Regions from separate parts of the Homo sapiens genome. Here region 1 is linked to region 2. The links come from fine-mapping of genetic effects on gene expression. A gene starts in region 2. The other region holds a variant in brackets. All regions are shown on one strand. Distances are from middle to middle.

Evidence for each region. PIP is the estimated chance that this variant, and not a neighbour inherited with it, causes the effect.
Region 1: its variant is the best candidate, but not a certain one, in a credible set for the expression of NRROS in whole blood (TOPMed, PIP 0.65).

Annotation. Positions count from the first base shown.
Region 1 is chr3:196,691,350-196,694,257 of GRCh38, reverse strand. No RefSeq gene overlaps it. Among named protein-coding and RNA genes, the nearest start is that of CEP19, 19 kb to the left of the region's middle. The variant T/C (reference allele first, on the strand shown) is at 1,648.
Region 2 is chr3:196,638,147-196,641,054 of GRCh38, reverse strand. NRROS (negative regulator of reactive oxygen species) reads right to left here and starts at 1,361. Exons shown (of 3, transcript NM_198565.3): 1 at 1,180-1,361. RefSeq lists an enhancer at 605-724 and silencers at 1,175-1,274, 1,295-1,724.

The DNA.
Region 1 (2,908 bases), 53 kb before region 2:
AGGTAGCTCTGGCTTGGCACTGGGTATTAGCAATTTTTTCTTTTTCTATTTCTTATCCTTTTTTAAAATTTTATTTTATTTTTATTTATTTATTTATTTTTTGAGATGGTATCTTGCTCTGTTGCCCAGGCTGGAGTGCAGTGGAGCAGTCTCGGCTCACTGCAACCTCCCCCTCCCGGGTTCAAGCGATTCTCCTGCCTCAGCCTCCTGAGTAGTTGGGATTAGAGGAGTGTCAGGCTGGGCTTGAACTCCTGACCACAAGTGAACCGCCCGCCTCGGCCTCCCAGAGTGTTGGGATTACAGGCGTGAGCCACCACGCCTGGCTGCAATTTTTTCTTGTAATTTAAACGTGACTACCTCCACATCTAGAGTGAGCCTTGCTCAGAATTTACACTGTTTTTAAATCATCTTTTAAAAACGCTAGGTTGTCTGTGCCATACATAGACCCATTCTTTAATTATTGATCGAATATGTCTGAAGCACTTCACAGGTGCCAAGCACTGTTCTGGGTAACAGGTATACAGAGAGGAAAAGCCAGGACTTTTCTTTCGTGGAGCTCACATTTCTGTCGGGGAGCAACAGTCAACAAGAAAACGTGTCTTTTTCCAACAAGAAACTATAGGCAAAAAAAAAGAAAAAGAAAAATATCACACGGTCATAAATGCTGTGTAGATAGAGTAGACTGTGTGGGGTTCCTCCTTCACTCAATCCATTCCCTCCCGCAAAACCAAAAAAGGAAGTCAAGGCCGGGCGTGGTGGCTCACGCCTGTAATTCCAGCACTTTGGGAGGCCGAGGCCAGCGGCTCACGAGGTCAGGAGATGGAGACCATCCTGGCTAACACGGTGAAACCCCGTCTCTACTAAAAATACAAAAAATTAACTGGGCATGGTGGAAGTCAAGGAAGAAAAAATATTTCATCCTGATAAAGCCACTGTATCCAAATATCAGGGTCTTACATCCAAGACAACTGCATGAGCAAGCACATTTTATAGCATTATATGCTCAATAAGCTTTATTTTTAAAATCCAGCTTTAACTGTTTTTCATTTTCTTGGTCCATTCCTATGCCTGGCCCCACTTTCTTCAAAAGGTGGATGAGGTGTCACCCTAGGGAGAAGGAACCAGGAGTGAGTTTTTCTTCTGCTCTCGCTCCCGTGGTTCAAGCCTTTCATCCGGTGCTGAGCCTAACTCTTCCCTTAGGACTGCTGGGTGGGGCTTAAATGGCTGTGTGTGTAGAACATCTCCCTGCTCAGTCATCAGCCGAAAAGACCCTCAGAAATCAGGATACATTCATCTTTGTTCCTTTCCCCAGTTTTCTCATTTGTAAAATGGGACGTTAATACCTGTTTCCACTGGGCCAGCGTAAGGAGGAAGTTAGATACCATATGCATAGTACAGCATCTGTCATGGAGTAAGTGTTCAATATGTGAAAGTTTTTTTAAAAAGTCTTTTGCCAGCCGGGCGTGGTGGCTCATGCCTATAATCCCAGCACTATGGGAGGCCGAGGTGGGTGGATCACTAGGTCAGGAGATGGAGACCATCCTGGCCAACATGGTGGAACCCCGTCTCTACTAAAAATACAAAATTAGCCAGGCGTGGTGGTGCACGCCTGCAATCCTGGATACTCGGGAGGCTGAGGCAGGAGAA[T/C]TGCTTGAACCCAGGAGGCGGAGGTTGCAGTGAGCTGAGACTGCACCACTGCACTCCAGCCTGGGCAACAAGAGCAAAACTCCATCTCAAAAAAAAAAAAAGAAAAGGAAAAGATCTGTATTTTATAATATTTTGAGTGACTGGACTAACACCTACAGGACAAGATATTATGGAGACACAAGTAAAGTCCATGACTTGCATTAAGAAATGCCAACTGCAAGAGCACAGGACAGGAAACAGTTAACCTAAAAACAACGTGAAACAGACAGAGGGCATCCAATTGGCAGCAGTCGCAGTATGAACACTCTGTGGACTGGCTGCCCAGAAAGCTAATGTAAGCCTACGCTACATTAATTGAGGGTTAGTGCTCAGATGGGGGAAAGGTCCTGATCAGATCCTGTCTGGAGCCATGTTTTCTTCCAGGAGCCTCATTTTAAAAGATGTTGACAAACTGGAGTGTGTCCCACAGAGAGTGACCATGTCACATGAGAATCCTTTGCAAGAAGTGATGAGATTTTTGCCTGGAAAAGGCAAAAGTTAAAAGATTGCTCTTAAAGCTCTTTAGTTCTTTACAGATCTTTCACGTAGAAGAATATATTACTACTTCTAGAGGGAAAAACTAGGCACAGTGATTGGAAATTTAGGGAGCAGCTCTCACCTCAAGAAAAGACAGAACTTTCTGGCCAGGCGCGGTGGCTCACGCCTGTAATCTCAGCACTTTGGGAGGCCAAGGAGGGTGGATCACTTGAGGTCAGGAGTTCGAGACTAGCCTGGCCAACATGGTGAAACCCCGTCTCTACTAAAAATCCAAAAATTAGCTGGGCGTGGTTGTGTGCACCTGTAATTCCAGTTACTCGGGAGGCTGAGGCAGGAGAATCACTTGAACCCAGGAGACAGAGGTTGCAGCAAGCCCAGATCACGCCATTGCACACTCTAGCCTGGGGGAAAAGCATAAAACTCCGCCTCAGAAAAAAAAAAAAAAAGAAGAAGAAGAAAAAAGAAAAGACAGAACTCTCTGAAGATCAAAACCGCCAGCAACGGGAAGGGTGACTTTGTGAAGCAGTGACCCCGCTGTCCCTACAGCAGCCCAGCAAGGCACCAGAGAGGTTAACCATTGGCGTTTTTCAAGCTGCCTTCTGTGGAGCAGCATCCTGGGGAGCTAGGGTTGGGGTCGGGTGTAAAAGTGGTCATTGTTCTGAGTGATAAAAAGAATAAGGAGGTGGGAACTGGACTCCTAATTTATCCACAGCAGCTCAATTCT
Region 2 (2,908 bases):
ACCTAAGAGGTGTGTGAGGAGAATAAATACGTATTGTAAATGTAAAGCCCAGCAAACCCTCAGCATCCACAGAACAGTCTGTGTGTCACAGCCGGCAGGTGAGGAGCACACAGGAAAGCATGGAGGGCCACAGACGCTGAATGTTTCTAGCACCCAGACTCCTAACGGGCTGTGCCCATCATGAAGAAGCCTCCGGTGGGGTCCCCTCAGCCCCTAGGGAAGCACAGCAGCCCCGACCAGCCCTGTCCGGAGAGGCTCCATTCCTAGGACCCCCGATCCGGCCTCCTCCAGTCGCAGCCACCAACTGGCACGTGTCCACCTTCTCTCAGAGGCAGCACAAAGCCACACCAGTGGCTCCTTACTTCTTTCCGTCTAGCTCCTGGGTACGTGGGGAAGTACGCTGACCCCTTCAGAAGCCGGCCCACATGCAGGGGCCACGAGGGCTACGGAAGAGCGTCCGAGTCTTCGTCGCCCTCCTGTTAGTCTCCCTCTGATAAGCCATGGATCTAAGTCTAGGCTAAGATCCAAGTCACAGAGCCCCAGTGAATCTCCCAAGGACAAACGTTCTGTGGGAGAAGGGGCTTTGCACATTTTCACAGCTGTATCCCCAGGGCCTTGGACAGGCCTGGCACGTGGACGGCATCTGTGATAGGTGTTGCTGTTAACCAGTCTTAGTGTCTTCATCTATGAGATAGTGGTTCTCAATCCACGTTGTGGGACAGGAAAGGAGAGCCCAGTGCTCAGCATGCTGAGTGTGCACAGAGCGGTCTCATCATATCCAGTCGCCCAGCCCAGGGAGGGAGCATCTCTGTTCCCATTTTGCAGATGAGAAAACTGAGGCTCAGAAACCTTAACTGTCTGCTCACATGCTCCCTGCAGAGCCAGGACTCAAACCCACGTCTGAATCTGAAGCCCTCGTGGTTTCCACTACGTCGCACCACCTTTCTCAGCTCTAAGTGCTCCTGGAGGGAGGTATTTCCACCTCCACCCAGAGCTGCAGCCCCCACGCCCAGCACAAAAGCGGCGGCGCTTGGACGCAGCAAGCCACAGCTTCCTCGTGAGCCCTGAGCTGCGGGCCGCGGACGCTGACCTCCTACCACCCAACCTCGCTCGAGCTCGCCCACCTGGAGAAGGGCCCCGGCTGTGCCCCGGGGACGCCCCCACGCGGGAAATACTCACGGCTCCCGCAGGCGCAGGCGGCTGCGCGGGGCGCATCGTCTCCGGGGGCTCCGGCCTCCTCGAGAGCAGCCGAACGCGGGGCTGGGCTACCTCCTTGCTGTGGGGCATCAGATTATTTTAGCACCAGCGGAAGGAACGGACGGAAACTGAAGTCACATGGAGAGCGGGCTGCTCGGCGACTCAGCACAGGCTCACTCAGACCCGGCCTCTTAGAGGGAAGCGCGGCGCGGGCGCGGGGGTGGGGCGGGCCGGGGGAGCGGGGCCCGAACACCTGCCGGCCTAGCGGCCGAGCAGCGGGGATGTTTAGACGATCTTCCAGCAATGCGACCGAGGCTCCCCCGGCTTTCTTGCGTTGGTGCCTTGGCAGGGCTGGGGGCGGCCAGCTAGGGGCCCCTTGCCTATGAGGTCTGCTGACCCAGAAACTTTGCTACGAGCTTCCAGCCAAGGACCAAGCTGAGGCCGACTTTGGGAACGGCAGCACCGTGGTAAAGAGGCACAGCCTGTCGTCTGGCAGGGTCAGCCGCTCAGCCAGTCTGTCTTCTTATCCACTCAGCCGGTCCTTGTGGATCATCTCCTTTACGGACCCTGTGTTAGAAAGAAGGGGAATTGCTTTGTCGAGGACTGTCAGAGAGTGCCAAGAGCTTCTTGATCTTAGACTGCGCGGATGGGTTTTTTTGTACCTGATGTGTACAAAGTTCCCTGCCAGCTCTTGCCAAGAATTCAAAGGAGTAAGAATAATTGATCATATAGCCATCATTGAAGCAGCGCCAGACACTGTGCTAAGAGCTTCATATGCATTACCCCAGCGCTCCTGTTCTCGAGGAACTACTGTCGTCTAGAGAAGGTGAAATATTTACAGTGCCTGCTGCGTGTGGAGTGACGTGGACCACCATAGTCGGGGGCTCAGACAAGGGGCCTCCAGTTCTGATCTCTCTCACTCCCCTTCAAATCTGAAACGTTGAACTGTCCTGCAGGATTGGGTCACCTCTCTTATAGCCTGTGATTTGGGATTGTGTGTAGCATTGTCCATCCTAAGAGAACAGGAGCCAAGTCCTTTTCACTCCAAACATCTGGCACATTGTCTCTGCTTTCTACAATATTCACTCATGGCCGGGCACAGAGGCTCAGGCTTGTAATCCTAGCATTTTGGCAGACCAAGGCAGGTGGACCGCCTGAGTGCAAGACCAGCCTGGGCAACATACTGAGACTCCATATGTACAAAAAATTTAAAACTTAGCCAGACCTGGTGGCACGCACCTGTAGTCCCAGCTATTTGGGAGGCTGAGGTGGGAGGATCACCTGAGCACAGGGAGGTTGAGGCTGCAGTGAGCCAAGATCACGCCATTGCACTTCAGCCTGTGTGATAGAGTGTGACTCCGTCTTTAAAAAAATAAAAATAATTTTAAAAATAAAATATTATCTCATAATGGTAATAACAATCACACCAATGAAAAAGCTAAATAAAGATCAAATTGTTGCAAACCCAGGTGCTTGATTCAGGCCTCTTTCTCTCTTGTATGCACATTCTCTACTTCATGTCTTTTGTGTCTACCAATCAGTTGGTAACTCCCCAATTTTAATTTCTAGCTCCAACATTCTCTTCCACGAGAGAAGATCCAGACTTGCATTTTTAACTGTCTACTGGTCAATCAACTGCTACATGTCCCAGAGTCACCATAACATGATGTATCCCAAACTCAACTCTCTCTCTTTTTTTTTGAGACAGTCT